3 linked regions of the Homo sapiens genome follow. The protein of the gene in region 1 purifies or fractionates together with the protein of each later gene. This does not show direct contact. Each region holds a gene or a part of one and is shown in the gene's direction. Other genes may lie near its edges.

Evidence for each region. The genes of interacting proteins can lie anywhere in the genome.
Region 2: the proteins of FAM174A (region 1) and GAK purify together in Homo sapiens (co-immunoprecipitation; 3 studies listed by BioGRID and IntAct, with this or other methods). This does not show direct contact.
Region 3: the proteins of FAM174A (region 1) and ZNG1A purify together in Homo sapiens (affinity purification with mass spectrometry; 2 studies listed by BioGRID and IntAct, with this or other methods). This does not show direct contact.

What each region holds. Positions count from the first base shown.
Region 1 is NC_000005.10:100,538,368-100,545,395, forward strand, and holds part of FAM174A (membrane protein FAM174A precursor), read left to right. Parts: intron 1-7,028.
Region 2 is NC_000004.12:922,317-929,344, reverse strand, and holds part of GAK (cyclin-G-associated kinase), read left to right. Parts: intron 1-7,028. UniProt on the Homo sapiens protein: Associates with cyclin G and CDK5. Seems to act as an auxilin homolog that is involved in the uncoating of clathrin-coated vesicles by Hsc70 in non-neuronal cells. Expression oscillates slightly during the cell cycle, peaking at G1.
Region 3 is NC_000009.12:169,057-176,084, reverse strand, and holds part of ZNG1A (zinc-regulated GTPase metalloprotein activator 1A), read left to right. Parts: intron 1-300; coding exon 301-387; intron 388-2,718; coding exon 2,719-2,815; coding exon of another isoform or gene 2,816-2,819; exon of another isoform or gene 2,820-3,596; intron 3,597-3,912; coding exon 3,913-4,004; intron 4,005-7,028. UniProt on the Homo sapiens protein: Zinc chaperone that directly transfers zinc cofactor to target metalloproteins, thereby activating them.

The sequences.
Region 1 (7,028 bases):
ACATTGAACTACATGAGACTTTCAAATAGTTTTGTTTTTATCTAATTCATTTATAATGAATATGTAGGTAATAATAACTTCCTTTTTGAGTCTGGAAACATTCCAAAGAACAGTCAGGTTCTCACTGTAGAAATACAAAACATATATATATATATGTAAGTGTATATATATATATGCAAGGAACACGGTAGGGACAAAGTAGATTGCCTAAAATGAACACTTAATCTCTATGAAAAGAGACTTTTCTGTCTTATTCTCCCCTATATCCTCAGTGCTAAACATCATGTGCAATATATGATGGGCACTGAATAAGCAGTTGCCTAATGGATGAGCACTCTTCATGTATTATATTGCTGAACAGGTAGGTGGTAAGGATTTGGAAATTTAAGGATAATTGCTGTTTACTGACGGAACAAAGAACTGCGAAGATCTCAATTAATACTTTTATTTCCTTCCTCTCAGTAGGACATTCTCTCCACAGTAAAATGTATAAGGCCAGGGAGCGGGGGTGGGGGGAAATCACTGTAGATGGTTGTTGGTTTTAGCACGTATGGTAATTATATAAAGCAATTTTTGTCATAGCTGAATAATGATTCTTGCCTTAAAAGCAGGGAATTATTTCCTTTTTCATGCCATGTCGTTGGTTTTTCGTTTTTTATTCAATTTGGTATATTGGAAGGAAATCGATGCTTAAAAGTTTAACCCTCTACTTTTTTTAAAAAAAATCTCTATGCTCTTTAGCAAGTCTCTTCCAATTTCAAGAAAATATGGTGCTCATGCTCATATAGTGGAGATGAGCATGAAATTTATTATGATAGCCTTTATTTAAGCAGTCAATATTTATTCAACTGACCAGTACTGGGCACTGGGGATACAGTTTTGAGCAAAACAAACATTTCTGCTTCTATAACACTTATATACTAGAGGAGCAGAGGGGCATTAACCAAATAATCACATAGATAAGTACATAAAGGATGCTATGAAAAGGCATTAAAATGCAGATCCTATTAATACATATTATATAGGAAATAAAGAATATTAATTTAATTTGAATGCTTACCCAACCCTATACGCTAAGACACAACGTTAGGTTTTTTCAAAGAACCATACTTTGTAACTGAAAGATTATTTTTGAGCTTTTACTTATCATCCTAATAGCTGATAGTTAATTGATAATTTATGTGTCAGATATAATACCGCATACTTTATGTGCATTTTGAAATTCTTGCAAAAACCTTCAAAGTAGGTAATATCATTCTTACTGAGGAAATTTAGGCTGAGCAAGTTTAAATAACTTGCCCAAGCGTGCACATACAGGACCTGCCCAAACCCAGCTCTGCTGGAACTTACCTAACATGTTCAACCATCATGCTGCTTCCTGTGATCATTTAAAGTAACCAATTTAAAGCGATATTGCACATAAAGATGGCTAGCTTATTTATGGAGAAAAATAAAGTGGATAGTATATGCCCAGTGCCTTTCTGTTTAAAACACATGATTTTGTTGGATGTTAAACCTCCAAATTTTACCTTTTTGAAAAGTGAGTTAACATTTATTGATCATCATATTTGTGCCAAGGTGAAATAATTTTGTTTCCTACCTCAACTCCCTGCATTCCTTCCCTCATCCAAAGATTTTCCTGATTTACTACACATAGTCAGGGAATGGTAATATTTTAAAGAAACGTCTGTTAATATGGTCACACATATTTCCACCTTAGTGGAGCAAGTCACTAATGATTTATGCATGTGACTTTAATCACCATTTCTCTTTTGTCTGGTTACTTAAGAATATGAGTTGTTTTCTTTTTCTCCTAGAAGTCTTGTGGTACCAGCCCTATTTACAAAATTATAAAACATCCATAGAAATCACTTAATTTAAGCAAAACCAGGAGTACTTTTGACTATTTAACCATTTATGTATTTAGTGACTGTCACTAATTCAGTAAATATTATTTACCACCTATTGGGTGCCATTACTAAGCTCTGTGATGAGGGTTAGTAGTGCACAAGGAAAGTCCCTGCATTCATGGAACTTCCATTATAATTGTTCATATCTCCTTGGAAAGTGGAGTTTTCCTAACATGTGTAAATTGTCCTGGTTTGCCATTATTTATTTAGCTAGTCAGTGTATATCAAATGTTTTCTATATAAAGAGACCCAGAAACTTGGAAATGTATTTAACAAGTACTAGTTCGCAAGTAATGAATATTTTTTTGCAAAGGTGAAACTTCCCTTCACAAAATGTTTACTCATACACCTAAAATATTTTAAAGTGTCAAGTTAGTTTGCTATGTGGTCAAGTGCCAAAATACCAAGATGATGACATAACTGATATGTCAGGGATCATAATCCCTGATATGATTATCATATCATAAGTGAAGTGATAATAGAATGCTCTGTTTTTAAGTGATATTTGTTATGTGTGCAGTTCTGGGAGGTAAAAGTGGAGATGTACTAGTTTGTTGGGGGCGTTGAGGCCAGAGCAATGCTTGCTCATGTAATGCCACATATAGACATTGATATCTATACGGGGTAAATGTATGAGACTACCTGCCCTGATACTATCCACCTTAGACACTGCCTAGTGATCTCAAGAGCTGAGGAGATCTTTGCTTCACCACATCAATAGCCATTTGCTTGTATGACACCCTGGCTCAGGAGATTTGTAGGACAATGCTGAATGTGGACTATGTAAAGTAGTTTGACAAGTTATCATATGGGCCACCTTTAAGCCCACACAAATCTGTTTCTGATAAATTTGAATGACTGTTATATCTCTCAAACTTCTGAATATTAGGGCTTCAAAGATAATAAAGACATCATATTTGTGTTCAAGGAGCTTATCTAGTGAAGGAGTACCACTGCTTTTTGTGGTAATAAACTAAACTTTTGGGAATGTGGCAGCAAGAGCTGAAGCTATTTGGAGAAGGCTGCTCTTAAATATCATTCCTGTTAGACAAAGCCATCTGAAAAGCCACTTCATAACATAACAAAAACTATTATATTTTTGTAGAAGACTAAATATTTATCTCTAATCAGCATAAATCTTTTACAAACTTGCCCTGTAACTGAATCTATTTTCAGTTGACCTTTTCTGCTTGGATATATTTCATTTCACTCTTAACTGTGCAGGCAGGGAGAAGTATTGGATGAGAGCTGTAGAAAGGGGTCCATTTAAGAATGAACTATCCAGTCTTGTTTAAATGCCATTAGTGGGGAAAGAGCAAGTACAGAAGGAAATATTGAAGATATGGGAAAGGAAGATACCTAAGAAGACATTAAGGAGGGAATCTAAATAAAGCTCTTGTCATAGGACAGGAGAGAGATTTTCCATTGAAATGTTCCCATTTCCATGCCTTTCATTCTCTCTTATGCTTTTTGTAGTCTGGCTTCTAATTCTACCACTCTAGAATTACTCATGCAGAAGATGGTTAATAAGCACATTGTCTCAGTTTCATGGATATTTTCCCCTTTTCTGTAGCACTCAGTGCACTGGTTCTTACTTTGACTTCTGAGACATCTCTTCTGATTTTCTTCTTACCTCCTTGAGTATTTCTTGCCTAGCTTCTTCATGAATTTCTTATTCCATGAACTCTTCTTCCTAATTAGGACTCTTCTACAAGCTAATGTCTGGAGAGCAGGGCCTCTGTCTTACTCATCTTTGGTCCCTAAAGGCCCAATCTGATTCCTAGAATACAACGAGATGCATTGAATTTTTGTGGAAGAGAATGACTTTCACCTCCCAACTGACAGTGTTTTCTGGGCCCTGCTTTCACTGTCCATGTTCCCTGGGTGATCCATCCAAAATTCATTTCCTTAATGGCCACCTCTAAGCTGTTAATTACTTTCTGAGTTACAGACATGTATAGCCAGCCAACTTCTTACGGGATAGATGATTCAGACTTGTTTTCAAGTTTAAGCTTGAAACAGTATTTTTATCCCTGGACAAATCTTGCTGTACTCTCTTTATAAGGAGAATAACACCATCATCTACACAGTTTCTCAAACTAGAAACCTAAGTCATCCCATGTCTCTCTTTTGCTTACCATTCACATACAGTCATCCAATTTCAATTGCTAAATATTTCTTGACTATATTGCTGCTTTATGAGCTCAATTGACCTTACATTAGTTTAGGTTCACATCACTAGATTATTGTGCTATTGTTTCTAACTTTTCTCCACTTCACCTGTCTCTCTTTCAATTTACCTTCAACACTGAACAGATGGTGTTCCCTCTGAGATGTAAATCTATCATACTATGTGTGTGCTTATAATCCTTTATTGCTACACTGTCCAATATGGTAGCCAGTAGGTACAGGTGGCTATTTAAAAACTTATGTTACCTGGGCACAGTGGCTTACGTTTGTAATCCCAGCACTTTGGGAGGCCAAGGTGGGAGGATCTCTTGAGTCCAGGAGTTTGAGACCAGCTTGGGCAATATAGTGAGATCCTGCTTATTATATTTATATATATATATGTGTGTGTGTGTGTGTGTATAATATTCACACACATGTGTAGGGGGTATATGTGTGTGTGTATATATATGTGTGTGTGTAATATATATGTATATACACATACTGGGTATAGCAGTGCAGGCCTGTAAGTTCCAGCTGTTTGGGAGGCTGAAGTGGGAGGATCACTCAAACCTAGGATATTAAGACTGCAGTGTGTGATGATCACACTACTGCACTCCACCTTTCATGACAGAGCAAGACCTTGTCTCAAACAAAGTTAATGAAAAATAAAATGTAAAATTCCAGTCCATTAGATATACTAGCTGCATTTCTTTTATTTATTTAGAGACAAGGTCTGGCTCAGCTCACTGCAACCTCTGCCTCCCGGGCTCAAGCCATCCTCCCACCTCAGCCTCCCAAGTAGGTGGGACTACAGGCGCACGCCACCACACCCAGCTATTTATTGTATTTTTTATAGAAATTTGGTTTTGCCATGTTGCCTAAGCTGGTCTCGAACTCTTGAGCTCAAGTGATCTGCCTGCCTTGGCCTCCTAAAGTGCTGGGATTACAGGTGTGAGCCACTTCACCCGCCAACTAGCCACATTTTGAGGGCTAAATAATCACATGTTGTTAGTGGCAACTGTATTGGACAGAACAATGCAGAATATGTCCATCACTGCAGAAAGTTCTATTGGGTAGCACAATTCTATGGCATTTCATGGGATCAATGTTCATACTCTTTAGTATTTAATTAGCTCCTTAATCAGATTTTTTGGTGTTTTTGACATGGAGTCTCCCTCTGTCACCCAGGCTGGAGGGGAGTGGCACAGTCTTAGCTCACTGCAACCTCCACCTCATGGATTCAGACGATTCTCCTGCCTCAGCCTCCCCGAGTGGCTGGGACTACCGGCCATCATTTTTTATTTTATCTTGTCTTCCAGTCTCTAGTGAACTATATTTTTATGCAAGTACATTTTTCAAGGATGGAATTCTTTGCATTCTTTCTTTATTCTCTTGTTTAACTCCTGGTTGTCTTTGAAGATGAAATGGAACATGTACTCTACTGGGAAATCTCTGTGATTCCAGACCATTTTGAGAATACCTGTGTTATGACATTATTTCCAGGGGACTATAATAGGTGGTTCTGTTTCTGTCTTCTTTTCTACACTGTTTGCTTTTTATACCTTATTTAGAAAATAGTAGATTTTCACGTTTTCTGAATTAATATCAAAAGGAAATAAGAAATAATGTATCAGGCTGGGCATGGTGGCTTATGCCTGTAATCCCAGCATTTTGGGATTCTGAGGCAGGCAAACTGCTTGAATCCAGGGGTTGAGACCAGCCTGGGCAATATAGTGAGACTTCATCCCTACTAAAATGAAAAAAAGAAAAAATTAGCTAGTTGTGGTGACCTGTGGCCCCAGCTACTCAAGAAACTGAAGTGAATCACTGGAGTCCAGGAAGTCAAGGTCGTACCCCTGCATTTGTACCCCTGCATCCCGGAAACAGTTGAGGCCAAGGTCATACCCCTGCATTTGTACCCCTGCATTTGTACTCCTGCATCCTCAAACAGATGAGATCCTGGAGAGAGAGAGAGAGAGAGAGAGAGATCGAGAGACAGAGAGAGAAGGAGAGGAGAGAGAGGGGGAAAAGAGGAGAAAGAAAGATAAAGGAAAAGAATAAAAAAGAAATAATGTATGTGAAATCAAAACATGTAAATGAAGATTAAAAATGTGAGGTAGCTGTGTGAGAGTGGTGTTAACATCAATCCTGCAATAATGTAGTCATTTTAACTCATTTCAATTCCATACTGGAGCCTCATGATATATGCTTGTGCAGAGAAGTCAGTTTTTTTAACAGGTGTATATTTGCATGTATTTACCCAAGATAATGTGCAGATTATTCACCAGTGTATATCTAACATGACTGCAGTCCTCAGGGTATTAGAGTACAACCAGAAAATGCATTCCTCTGTAATTGATAGAGGTTGAATGTGGGACAAAATGGAGAAACTAGATTGAGATGCTTCTGGTTAGTTATTGCAAAGTTTTTCTGAAAACAAAATCAATAGCATTTGAACATTACTATCAACTGGTAGCAATGCTCAGGTGGTATCTACCAATACACTCTACCAGTGTTTCTGGACCCATTGCTACAGCAAGCGTCTATTCTGACTAGATGGTCCTTATGCCCTGCCAGTTGTTAAATAGCTAAATATCTTGAGTATCACCTCTACTCCTACACTTCAAAGTTCCTGAGTTCTTTTGTCATGATCTCCAGTGCCCATTGTAGTATTTCTCTTCTATATTATTGCATTTGATTCTAATTTTATCTTTGGTGAAGACTACATTTAAAAAATTACTTAGGTTTGATCTTTTCTAAAATATGAGAAATATGGTAAAATGTTGAAATTGGGTTGAAAGATATGTTGGTAATTTGCATTGTTCAGTATGATATAAAACATATCTAGAGAAATACTTAAATCATAAATTGAGAATCTTATAGTAATTGAAGTTACTTTCTTAAGAAATCAGGTTTTCCTTGGCGTTTTTGGATAGATTTTTATTGCTA
Region 2 (7,028 bases), on another chromosome or scaffold:
GCACAGCCGTCGTATGGTTTAAGCGTAACCCGCCTCGTGCGTTTGGTTGGGTGTTGTATGTAATTTGAGCCAGCCCGCAGCCCTTGTGTGCCATGCGCAGTGTTAGCTGAGTGGCTGGGCCCGCTCAGGAGCCTTGGGGGTCAAGCTCTGGCCTAAGGAATGGGGAGGGCACAGCCTACTCCCACCCCCAGGGCCACTTGTGTGTGGTCCTGACTCTCCACCCTTCTTCCTCCTTGACATGGCTTTTGGAGGCTTCCTCCCTTCACTTACTTAGAATGTTCTGGGCCGGGCGCAGTGGCTCACGCCTGTGATCCCAGCACTTTGGGAGGCCGAGGCGGGTGGATTACCTGAGATCGGGAGTTCGAGATCAGCCTGGGCAACACGGGGAAACCCGTCTCTACTAAAAATACAAAATTAGCCGGGTGTGGTGACACATGCCTGTAGTCCCAGCTACTCAGGAGGCTGAGGCAGGAGAATCGCTTGAACCTGGGAGGTGGAGGATGCGGTGAGCCAAGATCACGCCATTGCACTCCAGCCTGGGCAACAAGAGTAAATCTCCGTCTCACCAAAAAAAAAAGAAAAGAAAAAAGAATGTTCTGGACTGGGTGAGGGCACTGTGAATATTTGGTACTGACTGACAGTTGCAGAATCATGTGGTACAAGCAAGACTCTTGGTTGCAAGTTTCAGAAACCCTCCCAGGTGGGCTCAGTGGCAGGAAGGCCCCATGTCTCCAAGGTGGGCTCAGTGGCAGGGGAGGCCGCATGCTGGCCCCATGTGTCCTCCGCAGGGTACACTTGAGATCATTTTCTTTTATTGAAAAGAGTCTGGCTCTGTCGCCCATGTTGAGTGCAGTGGAGCGATCACGACTCACTGCAGCCTTGAACTCCTGGGCCTACGTGATCCCCCTGGCCTAGGCCTCCCAGAGTGCTGGGACGACAGGCATGAGATAATGTGCCCAGCCTTAGACTGATCTTAAAAGTAGACCGGGCCGGGCACGACGGCTCACGCCTGTAATCCCAGCACTTTGGGAGGCCGAGGTGGGCAGATCACCCGAAGTCAGGAGTTCGAAACCAGCCTGACCAACATGGCAAAACCCCATCTCTACTGAAAATACAAAAACTAGCTGGGCATGGTGGCGCGTGCCTGTAATCCCAGCTGCTCAGGAGGCTGAGGCAGGAGAATCACTTGAACCTGGGAGGTGGAGGCTGCAGTGAGCTAAGATTGCACCACTGCACTCCAGCCTGGACGACAGAGCGAGACTCTATCTCAAAAAAAAGTAGACCCTTAGGTTGCTGTGGCGAGCCAGCCTTGTAGCCGACCCTCTTCCCACATAGGACTTGTGACTGAGGGCACCAGCCTCTGAAGCTCCGTGCTGTTCTCTTGGCCATGTGACTGAGGGCACCAGCCTCTGCAGCTCTGTGCTGTTCTCTTAGCCACCAGGGTTCTGTCATCCTTGCTTCTTTGTACCTCTCCTGGACCCAGAGCCTGAAGTGCGGTGGCTGCGCTCACCCAGGGAGGGGTGCGGGGCCTGCGCTCACCCAGGGAGGGGTGCGGGGCAGTGCAGAGCGCAGGTAAGCAGGGAGGGGTGCGGGGCAGTGCAGAGCGCAGGTAAGCAGGGAGGGGTGCGGGGCAGTGCGGAGGGCAGGTGAGCGGGGAGGGGTGCGGGGCAGTGCGGACTACAGGTGAGCGGGGAGGGGTGCGGGGCAGTGCGGACTGCAGGTGAGCCGGGAGGGGTGCGGGGCAGTGCGGACTGCAGGTGAGCCGGGAGGGGTGCGGGGCAGTGCGGACTGCAGGTGAGCCGGGAGGGGTGCGGGGCAGTGCGGACCGCAGGTGAGCGGGGAGGGGTGCGGACTGCAGGTGAGCCGGGAGGGGTGCGGGGCAGTGCGGACTGCAGGTGAGCGGGGAGGGGTGCGGGGCAGTGCGGACTGCAGGTGAGCCGGGAGGGGTGCGGGGCAGTGCGGACTGCAGGTGAGCGGGGAGGGGTGCGGGGCAGTGCGGACTGCAGGTGAGCCGGGAGGGGTGCGGGGCAGTGCGGACTGCAGGTGAGCGGGGAGGGGTGCGGGGCAGTGCGGAGCGCAGGTGAGCCGGGAGGGGTGTGGGGCAGTGCGGAGGGCAGGTGAGCCGGGAGGGGTGCGGGGCAGTGCGGACTGCAGGTGAGCCGGGAGGGGTGCGGGGCAGTGCGGAGCGCAGGTGAGCCGGGAGGGGTGTGGGGCAGTGCGGACTGCAGGTGAGCGGGGAGGGGTGCGGGGCAGTGCGGACTGCAGGTGAGCGGGAAGGGGTGCGGGGCAGTGCGGAGCGCAGGTGAGCGGGGAGGGGTGCGGGGCAGTGCGGAGCGCTGGTGAGCCGGGAGGGGTGCGGGGCAGTGCGGAGCGCAGGTGAGCGGGGAGGGGTGCGGGGCAGTGCGGAGCGCTGGTGAGCCGGGAGGGGTGCGGGGCAGTGCGGAGCGCAGGTGAGCGGGGTGGGGGGGGTTGCGGGGCAGTGCGGAGCGCAGGTGAGCTGGGAGGGGTGCGGGGCAGTGCGGAGCGCAGGTAAGCAGGGTCTCTGGGGCTTGGTTAGTTGGTTCTAGGTCATCAGGCCTGTGAGGCCCAGATTCTGCCACAGAGTAGCTGCCCCCTGGCGGCTCTCCTGGTACCAACCGCCTTCACTTCCAAGTTGACAGCTTGATCATCAACATTTGTCCACTTTGGCTAGTTCCCAGCGTGAAGTAAAAATGGTCAGAACCACCACAGCAACCCTTAGGGGCTCTTCGTATTTGCCGAGCATGGTCAGTAGTACTTTATGTGGATTGTGTGGTCCTCACAGTAGCCCTGGAAAGTGGGTACTATAATTACTTCCATCTCGCAGAAGAGAAAAGTGACGTTTGCAGAGATTAGTTGCTTGCCAGAGGTCGAGTGGTGGAGTGGGGGCTGGGAGCCCCAGGGAGGTGTCCTTAGGGCCCCTGTCCTGGCCCCCGTTGCTCTGCGCATTGTGCCCTGGAGGAGATGTCTGAGCATATAAGGTAGTAGAGGCTGTTGGGGCGGAGAGTGACAGGCCAACACCACTTCATGCTCAGCTGCGGCTGACCCTTGGCAGGAACAAGCCTGTGTTACTTCTGTGGTTTCTGTCTGTTAACATACAGGGAGGTCACTCTTGGGGAGGACCCCATGGGTGGGCTCACCATTGGGGGAGGTCACTGTCGAGGGAGGACCCCCTGGGGTGAATTAGACGTTCGGGGAGGTCACTGTCCAGGGAGGACCCCCTGGGGTGAATTAGACGTTTGGGGAGGTCACTGTCGGGGGAGGACCCCCTTGGGGTGAATTAGACGTTCGGGGAGGTCACTGTTGGGGACGACCCCCGGGTGGGCTCACCACTGGGGGAGGTGACAGTTGGGCTGGGCCACTCCCCTTTCCTCCTCCTCCACTCCGTGGACTCCTGGTGAATTGCTCATGGTTGTCTGTGTGGGTGCGCATCCCCGTGTCCCAGTCCGTCTGTGCTGCTGTAACAGAACGTCGTACACTGGGGGCCTATAAACCACAGACGTTTGTTTATTCCTCACGGCTCTGCAGGCTGGAAGTCCAGGCGCAAGGCGCCGGCAGATCTGGTGTCTGGTGAGGTCCAGCACCTTCTCGCTGTGTCCTCACAGGGCAGAAGGGGTGAGGGAGTGCTCTCTGGGGCAGTAATCCCAGTCCTGAGGGCTCCACCTTCATGGCCTAGTCACCCCCAAGGAGGCCCCACCTCCTAACACCATCACCTTGGGTATTAGGATTTCACACAGGAATTTTGGAGGGGACACAGATTCATTCTGTAGTGTTGTGAATTATGTGTGTATTGAAAATGTTGGTATGTGGTATTTTACGTTAGAAAAGTGTCTGTTTCTTAAAAGAGGCCGAGTTGATTAAAAAAGATACTCAGATCTGCCTGTAGTGGTCCTGTACTGACCTCACTGTCCCCCGGCACTCTGTCCCGTCCCCAGCGTGCTCCGTGCATCCTACACGCATCCTGGTGAGAGGTGTCCTCAGCCCTTTGCATGGACGCTGGTGGGCTGTGTGGGGGAAGGTTGCCCAGCTCTGCTCATGGGGCCTGCAGGCTGCTCGGGGGCACCAGACTCTAGTGTCCCAAGTCCTCAGAGTGTCCCCTGGGGGTTTGTTTTATTTGGACATTTTGATGGGTTTAAAAAGTGTCAAGCTTTGATTTGTGCCTTTCTGAGTAGCGAGTTTGGTAATGCTTATTTGCTGCTCAGCCTCCCCTTCTGGCATTGCACATTCATATCCTGTGCCTGTTATTTTTTTATTCTTATTTTTTTGAGATAGAGTCTTGTTGTGTTGCCCAGGCTGTAGTACAGGGGTGTGATCTCAGATCCTGGCAACCTCCTCCTGAGAGCAGCCCCCGGGCAGAACTCCACCCCCATGACCCAATCAGATCTCACAGGAGAGCACTCACTATCCTGAGAGCAGCCCCTGGGGGAACTCCACCACCACAACCCAATCAGATCTCACAGGAGAGCACTCACTATCCTGAGAGCAGCCCCCCGGGGGAACTCCACCCCCACGACCCAATCAGATCTCACAGGAGAGCACTCACTATCCTGAGAGCAGCCCCGGGAGGAACTCCACACCCATGGCCCAGTCAGATCTCACTATCCTGAGAGCAGCCACGCCATGGGGAACTCCGCCCCATAATCCGGTCACCTCCCACCAGGCCCCTCCTCCAACATTGAGGGTCACAAGTGAACATGAGATTTGCATGGGGACGCAGATCCAAACCGTATGTGCTGTTATGAATAAAGATCCAAACCGTGTCCGCTGTTATGAATAAAGATCCAAACCGTATCCGCTGTTATGAATAAAGGTGCCGAGAACATTTTTTTTCAAGTCTTTTTGTGGACGTGTGTTTTTCTTTGTCTTGGGTAAAAAATACCAAGGAGTAGGATTGCTGATTTACAGGTTGGATTTAGGTTGAACTTCACATGAAACAACCAAACCTCCTTCCACGGTAGCTGCACCATTTTACATTTCCACCAGCTGCAGTGGAGAGTTCCTGGCTCTCCACTTCCTCACCAGCATTTCTTGTGGTCTCTCATTTTGATTACATCCATTCTTGTGAGTGTGCAGTGGTGTCGATCTCATTGTGATTTCATTGGAATTTCCCTGATGATGATGTTCAGCAATTTTTTTTTTTTTTTTTTTTTGAGAGGGAGTCTTGCCCAGGCTGGAGTGCAGTGGCTCCATCTTGGCTCACGGCAAGCTCCACCTCCCAGGTTCAAACAATTCTCCTGCCTCAGCCTCCCAACTAGCTGGGATTAAAGGCATGCACCACCATGCCCAGCTAATTTTGTATTTTTTAGTAGAAATGGGGTGTCACTATGTTGGTCAGGCTGGTCTCAAACTCCTGACCTCAGGTCACCCGCCGGCCTTGGCCTCCCAAAGTGCTGGGATTACAGGCATGAGCCACGGCGCCTGGCCTTTTTGTCCATTTTTTATTGGGCAGGGAGTTTCTGCTTACTCTGGATACAGGTCTTATGTTTATATATTTATATAATTTATGTGAGAAAGAGAAGGCAAGCCTTAGCTGTGGTCACTCTGCTGTCCCAGGCCAGGCTGCCTCAGGGAACCTGGGCCTTGAGATTTGACCTGGCTTGAGCATTTGATGTCTCTGTGCCTCCACTCCCCACCCCTCCACTCCCTGCCCTTGAGATGAGGTCTTGCTTTGTTGCCCAGGCTGGAGTGCAGTGGCATGATCACAGCTCACCACAGTCTTGAACTCCCGGACTCAAGCGATCCTCCCACCTCAGCCTCCCAGGTAGCTGGGACCACAGGCACGCACCACCACGCCTGGCTAATTTTTAATTTATTTCTGGTAGAGATGGAGTCTTGTTATGTTGCCTGTAGGCTGTTCTCAGAACTCCTGGGCTCAAGTGATTCTCCCACCTCGGCCTCCCAAAGTGCTGGGATTGCAGGTGTCAGCCACTGTGCCTGGCCTGTGCCTGTTCCTTAATTGGCAGAGTGTGTGCTGTAAAATGTATATAACAGGGTCTTGGAGGTACCCGACATGCCATTCTTTAATGTCTTATACGTTACTATTATTTTTAAATAAACTGTATTATTTTGAGTTCATTGTAGGTTCCCACGCGGCTGTGAGAAAAGATGGAGATCTTTTCTATTTTAGACCCTTGCCTGGTTTCCCCAGTGGTGACGGTCGGGATGCTAACCCTGGTGCAGGTGAGGCTGTGGAAGTCTCCATCCCCGTAGGGAGCCCTCATGCCACCTCTCAGCCACGCCATTTCCTTACCCTCTGGAAACCTCTAGTCTTTGCTCTGTCTGTGATTTTGTCATTCGAAGGATGCAGTGTAAGGGGAAGTGCAGAATTCTTCAGGTAATTGTGTGTCAGTAGCTTGTTTCCCGTGGTGAGACTCCTCTGCGTGAGTGTGCACGGCTTGCCCAGCCAGCCACCCGTGGAAGGACATCTGGGCTGTTTCCTGTTTTGGCTACTACAGATAAAGCTGCTGTGACACTTGCGTATAGGTTTTTGTGTGAATATACGTTTTCATTTCTGGGATAAATGTTTAAGAGTGCAGTTGCTGGTTCATGTGTGGTAATTATGTGTTTAGTTTGTTAGAAAACTGCCAGATTGTTTTCTTGAGTGGCCATACATTCCCACCAGCAATGTAGGAGCGTATCAGCCTGGTTAGGCTGCCATAACAAAATACTCCAGACTGAGTGGGGAGCAGTAGAAATTCACTCTCGCAGTTCTGGAGGCTTGAAGGCCAAGAGCAAGATGCTGTCAGTGCTGATTCCAGGAGAGGCCTCTTTTGCTGGTTTGCAGATGCTGCCTTTTTTTTTTTTTTTTTTTTGAGATGGAGTCTCGCTCTGTCACCCAGACTGGAGTGCAGTGGCGCAATCTCAGCTCACTGCAACCTCTGCCTCCTGGGTTCAAGCAGTTCTCTTGCCTCAGTTTCCTGAGTAGCTGGGACTACAGGCGCCCACCACCATGCGCCGCTGATTTTTGTATTTTTAGTAGAGACGGGGTTTCACCATGTTTCCCAGGTTGG
Region 3 (7,028 bases), on another chromosome or scaffold:
ATAAAAGGTCATTATAAATAAAAGATTGTGTGTAAATTTTAGGGAAGGTTAGGCTAGGTTGAAGAAGCTGTTTCAACTTGTAGGAGTGTTTGTAAATATTTATAAAATTTTATGTCTACATAAAGTATTTTGCAACAGGTTTCGAAGGATGCTTTAATCTTATCCTCTAGGATATTCTATGCTAAAATAATATATGAAAAATAGCACGCAAATTCTCAAAAACGTTAGGATTCTTTATATGTTTTTTGTATCTTTAAAATTATTTTGAATTTTTTTATTTACAAAAAATATGTTTTATAGGTGCTGGGAAGACAACACTTCTGAACTATATTTTGACAGAGCAACATAGTAAAAGAGTAGCGGTCATTTTAAATGAATTTGGGGAAGGTAAGTAAAGTTCAATAAATGTCATGTTGCAAGATTTTGTGTGACTGTTTATTCCTCTGGTGAATTGATATTCCATATTTAAAAATGAAAATGCAAGGTATTGTATTGATGTGGATAGCTTTAGAAAAGTTGGATTAATTTCTGTTAAGATTTATATGGGTTGAGATACTGAAATTAGTTTTAATAAAATTTTATTTTGTATAACTTTGGAATTCTTATTAACAGAATTAAACTACATTTTTACATGAAATAAATGACTCCAGAAGTAAAAATCTAGACATATGAAAAAACGTTTATTTTTTATTTTATTTTATTTTTTTTGAGATGGAGTCTCTCTCTGTCGCCAGGCTGGAGTGCAGTGGTGCAATCTCAGCTCACTGCCACCTCTGTCTCCTGGGTTAAAGTGATTCTCCTGCCTCAGCCTCCTGAGTAGCTGGGACTACAGGCGTGCGCCACCATGCCCAGATAATTTTTGTATTTTTAGTAGAGACAGGGTTTCGCCATGTTGGCCAGGATGGTCTTGAGCTCCTGGCCTTGTGATCCACCCGCCTCGGCCTCCCAAAGTTGCTGGGATTACAGGCATGAGGCACCATGCCTGGCGAAAAAATGTTTTTTTTAGGAATTAGGAAAGCACTTTTGTATGGACTCTATTGCAACTCATGAAAAATACTTGAAAATGCTTCTGTTATTAGTTAACTTTGTTTAATGTTTATTATCTGCAATGCAGTTAAAACTCAATATTTTAAAAATAAAGGTAAACATATGGTCTTTATCCTCATGTATTTTAAGTTATCTGTGAAAATAAGTGTGCTTAACTTCTCAACTGAAATATTAAACTGTAGTCAAAAAAATAGCTCTAGACACAATACTTCTGTTATCTTTATAGAAGTTTTTCTTCATAAGTATGAATTGTAATCAAAGCTTACTTCTAGCCAAAAAACAATATCTATTAAACGATTTCTTTTAAAATGTACTATTTTTTTTCAGTTGTAAAAAGTAAAAGAGCTAGGTTTTATGAACAGGATGGGAAGCCAGTTATATTCGATTTCTGGTTTTAATAAACGAAAGAGAAAAGTGCTTTTTAGGCAAAAATCCTGAGATTTCTAATAACAGACTGTTTTTTTCATCATCTTATTAAATAACCTATTGCACACTGATTACATTTATTCTTACTATTTTCTTTATTTTTTCCTGGATCATTTTTGCAATTTTATTTTTCACAGCATTCTCAATACTTTTCTTCATGTTTCATTAATGTTCTGTATATAGTCCAAATTCTGTAGCAACCTCTTTAGAAGCTCTTTATTAATACCTAGCTGAAATATAAAAAATATGTAAGTGTAAAACTACTCGATTTTATGGGAGCTCATTTGCTTAGTGGGCTTTTAGAACTTCACTGTTTGGTATATTTCTTTATTAGAGGAAAAGTAAAACATTTAAAATAATTCTTATAGATAACAAGCATTTCAAATGTAGTTTATTCTTTCTTAAGTAAGTATTGCTAGGAAAATATGTGAATTTGACTAAAAGTTTAGGTTTTTTTTTTTTTTTGAGATGGAGTCTCGCTGTGTTGCCCAGGCTGGAGTGCAGTGGCGCAGTCTCGGGTCACTGCAACCTCCGCCTCCCGGGTTCACGCCATTCTCCTGCCTCAGCCGCCTGAGTAGCTGGGACTACAGGCACCCGCTACCACACCTGGCTAATTTTTTGTAATTTTAGTAGAGATGAGGTTTCATTGTGTTAGCGAGGATGGTCTCGGTCTCCTGACCTCGTGATCCGCCCGCCTTGGCCTCCCTATAAGTTTAATTTTTAAATGAGCACGTGGTACACTGGCCAAAAACCTTCCTCAAGATGAACTAGGGTTTTTACTCATTGGGAATATTCAGCAGTTTGTCTAACAGAAACAATTTAGAAGAAGAATGAAAAGAAAAAGATAGATAAGGCAGTCTCTTAAGAGGTTGAAGGGCATACAAAATCCAGTATATAAAACATACTGGTCTATTTAGAAAGTTTACCCTGGACAAGAAAAAAATGCCTTCAAGATAGCTACTTTATTAAGAAATGGGGGTGGCCAAGTAAGAGGCCTAAGGAGGAAGTAGGTATGTTTATCAGTTTAGGATGTGTCTTTTTCAGGGCTTAAGTCATCTTAAATAAAAGCTAAAATAATGTAGTGTACTGTAATTTAGATATCGAGGCTGCATGAATAAAATGAAAGAATATAAGTTATAAAATGCAGTTTCTGCTTTAAGATCTCCATTATTGAGTTATCCTCATCTTTGTTTTTTTTTGGCTAATGGACATAAGCTAAAGAGTGCTGTTTGTTAATTATTCTAGGAAGTGCGCTGGAGAAATCCTTAGCTGTCAGCCAAGGTGGAGAGCTCTATGAAGAGTGGCTGGAACTTAGAAACGGTTGCCTCTGCTGTTCAGTGAAGTGAGGAATGTGTTTACTGTGTACATGGTTTACTAGAAATGTTTATTGATTATATTTCCAGCTTTAATTTTCTTGAGTAATTTAACTGAATTTACACAGTTTGCTTCATTGTATTTTCAAACAAATAGAAAATAAACTTATTAGGAAGCATTTTCTTAAAGTGTTTCTTGCTGTCTTTTCTATCTGCTCTAATGTTTTGGTCCTTTTATTGAGTTTTTATTGCTTTTGATGTCAGGGCTTATTTAATCTCTAGTGCATGAAAGTCTCATATGTAAAAAATGATTATTCTGAATTTAATCTGTCATTGGTCATACTTCTAAGTGTTCAATCTTATAAAAAAAATAAATGACTATCAAAAAAGAGAAAAACCTTACGTTATGTTCTACTAGTTAAGTTTTCAAGGACAGTGTTCACTAGTCTACCATAGACCCTAGAAGAGTTACCCAACACATAGTAGCACTCAAATATTTGTTGAATGAATTATAAAAATGACTACTTGTACTGTTAATTTTGTGTATTCTAGTGAATTAAATCTCTTCGGCATCATTTACTCCCTTAGGTATTTGACTTTGTGTCAAATGTTTTGGCAAGGATAAAATTATAACAGACTTTCTTGAACAACCAAAATATAATCTATTAAGGATTTTCCTTCACTTTTGATAAAATAAGAAAAAAGGAAATTAAAACCTTGCATCCTAATGTAAAATAGAATTATATGGTGTTTAATATCAGTGTCTCTTTAGCTATTATATTAAACTACTATAGTTAATACATTTTATCATTATTTTGTATGTTGGTTTTTAAAAATTTCATAAAGCTATAAAAAGATACTTGGTCAGATAAAGTTTCCTCTGCTTTTAATTTTGATAAAGTATTATGTATATGATTTCTTTTTACCTATTATATATATGCATCTATTGTTTTCTCACTGGTAAATATGGGACGGACATTTTGTTAGAAGGTTAGAAGTGAGTTAAATTTTCACATTCCCAAGGGTACTTTTGTCTCGGGTTGTTGAATATATTTTAAAGTGTTTATAATAATCACTTCAAAATATTTAGGTAATTAACTGTAAATTATGTTTTGGTATTCTCCAGGGACAGTGGCCTTAGAGCTATTGAGAATTTGATGCAAAAGAAGGGGAAATTTGATTACATACTGTTAGAGACCACTGGATTAGCAGACCCTGGTAAGAAGTGAGATTATTAATAACCAGAATATAGTTCTGTGATATATTGTAAATAGATGTATTAGAGGAATATCTAAAATGAGGATTAAAGCTTTTGTTAGTATTAAACCAAAAACTTTTTTTGGTTTAAAAGAGGAAAAGTACTCGGTTGTCATTTTCTTTGGCAGTTGAATGAATGAACAGAGTATTTCTTGGTACTTTTAAGCTGTTAATAGAATTTGAAGTTTTATTGATTGACTTAGGATTATTTGTAAGAACAGAAGTTGTTAAAAATAAGGACATGTAGGAAGAGCAGAGACGTTCTACCTCTAAGTACAGTTGTCCCTTGGCATCCATGGGGTATTAGTTCCGGAATCTCTGAGGATACCAAAATCTATTAATGTTCAAGTCCCTTACATAAAATGGTGTAGTATTTGCCTATAAGCTATGCACATCCTCCCATATACTTTAAATCATCTGTAGATTACTTATAATACCTAATACAATGTAAGTGCTGTGTAAGTAGTTATTACACTGCATTGATAAGGGAATCATGACAGGAAACTCTGAACTCTACTATGGAAAGCTACACAGAGTCAACCTGTTTCTAACAATGGGTTTCTGTTACCTTCTTACCAAGCTCTAATTCTTGATAAAGTCTGCTTATTTTCCCCAAATAACTTTTAGATAAAATCTTTATTTTCATTTTGCATAAAAGTTAGTGCTTATTCTGTGAATCTGACCCATACCATTATTTTTTTTTTTGATCTGGGTCTCTGGCATTGGGGCGATTTGTAAAACTATATTAAAGTATTTGGGGGTAATTTACTCAACAGGTCATAGTTGTCCAAAAGAAATATTGAAGTATCCTGAGAGTTCAAATGTGATCAGTGGTTATTGTACTTAAAACAATTACATAATAACATCATCCCCATGTTTTCAAAGTAGTATTGAATTAGGCTATTTTGGTCCTTATAGTAGGCATGGGTTTTCATACCTTTCTGATAAATCTGACTGATGATAGGACTTGGACTAATATGTTGGTGTTAAATATTTGAATCTGGTAAGAAAGAAAAATATATTGTATGCTTTTATTAGAAATAGCAAATATCAGTTTATTTCATCATAGCCAGTTTTGCCATTTTATAGACAAAAACTTGATACTTTTGAGAGTTTAATTAAACACGATTCAGCTTTTCAGAGGAAGAAAGAAAAACTAAAGATCACAGAGAAAGCTTTTATACAAATTGTAGTTATAAAAAATGTTAATGTTTCTTGCTTCTAACTTTCTTTACAATAAAGATTTTATTGTTTGGGTAAAGATGGAACATTCATTGTAAAAAAATTTAAATACCTAAAAAATACAAAGAAGAAAGTTGAAAAGTAATCATCTCACTTTTGTGATATACAAGTAGGGGCTGGGCATGGTGGCTCATGCCTGTAATCCCAGCACTTTGGGAGGCTGAGGCAGGTGGATCCCTTGAGGCCAGGAGTTCAAGACCAGCCTAGCCAACATGGTGAAATCCAGTCTCTACTGAAAATTCAAAAACTAGCCAGGCGATGTGGCGCACCCCATAATCCCAGCTACTCAGGAGGCTAAGGCAGGAGAATCGCTTGAAAGCTGGGAGGCGGAGGTTGCGGTGAGCCGAGATCACGCCACTGCACTCCAGCCCAGGCAACAGAGCAAGACTGTACACACACACACACACGCACATGCACATGCGCACACACACACACACACACACATTCATACACACACACACACAAGTAGGTACATTTTATTCCAGGGATCTCTCTATGCCAGTGCTACTTGGTAGTATGTTGAATGGCAGCCTCAGCCTCAGCTGGGAGCTTGTTAGAAAGGCAAATTCTTGACCAACCCAGATCTACTGAATCGGAATCTCTAAGGGAGGGGGTCAAGCAAGCTGTTTTTAATAAGCCCTTCAGGTGATTCTTATACTGTACAGCCATACCGCAGGGATATTGTGGGCTTAGTTCCATATCACTGCAGTAAACTGAATATCACAATAGAGTGAGTCACACACATTTTTTTGTTTCCCATTGCATATAAAAGTTATGCGTTTTGGCCGGGTGTGATGTCACAGGCCTGTAGTCCCAGCTACTTGGGAGGATCACTTGAGCTCAGGAGTTTGAGGCTGCAGTGAGTCATGATTGCACCACTGCACTCCAGCCTGGATGACAGCATGAGACCCCATTTCTTAAAAAAAAAAAAAAAAAAAAAAAAAAGCTGTGTTTATACTATACTGTAGTCTATAAAATGTGTAATAGAATTGTCTAAAAAACATACATACCTTAATTAAAAATATTTATTGCTAAAAAATGCTAACAATCATCTCAGCTTTCAGCAAGTCATAGTCTTTTTGCTGGTAGAGGGTCTTGCCACGATGTTGATGGGTGCTGACCAATCAGGGTAGTAGTTACTGAAGGTTGGGGTGGCTATCGCAATTTCATAAGATAATAATGAAGTTTGCTGCATTAGTTGACTCTCCCTTTCATAAAAGATGTCTCTATAGCACATGATGCTATTTGATAGCATTTTACCCACAGTATGACTTCTTTCAAAATTGGAGTCAGTCCTCTCAAACCCTGCTTTATCAATTAAGCTTCTGTCATATTTTAAATCCTTTGTTGTCATTTTGACAGTGTTCATAGCATCTTCACCAGGAGTAGATTCCATCTCAAGAAACCACGTTCTTTTCCCGTCCATAAGAAACAACTTCTCATTAGTTAAAGTTTTCTTATGAGATTGCAGGAATTGAGTCACATCTTCAGACTCCCCTTCTAATTCTAGTTCTCTTACTGTTTCCACCACATCGGCAGTTATTTCCTCCATTGAAGTCTGGAATCCCTCAAAGTCATCTGTGAGGGCTGGAATCATCTTTCAAACTCCTATTCATGTTGATACTTTGATCTCCCATGAATCACAAATGTTCTTAATGGCATCTAGAATGATGAATCCTTTCCAGAAGGTTTTCAATTTACTTTGCCCAGATCCATCAGAGGAATCACTGTCTATGGTAGCTA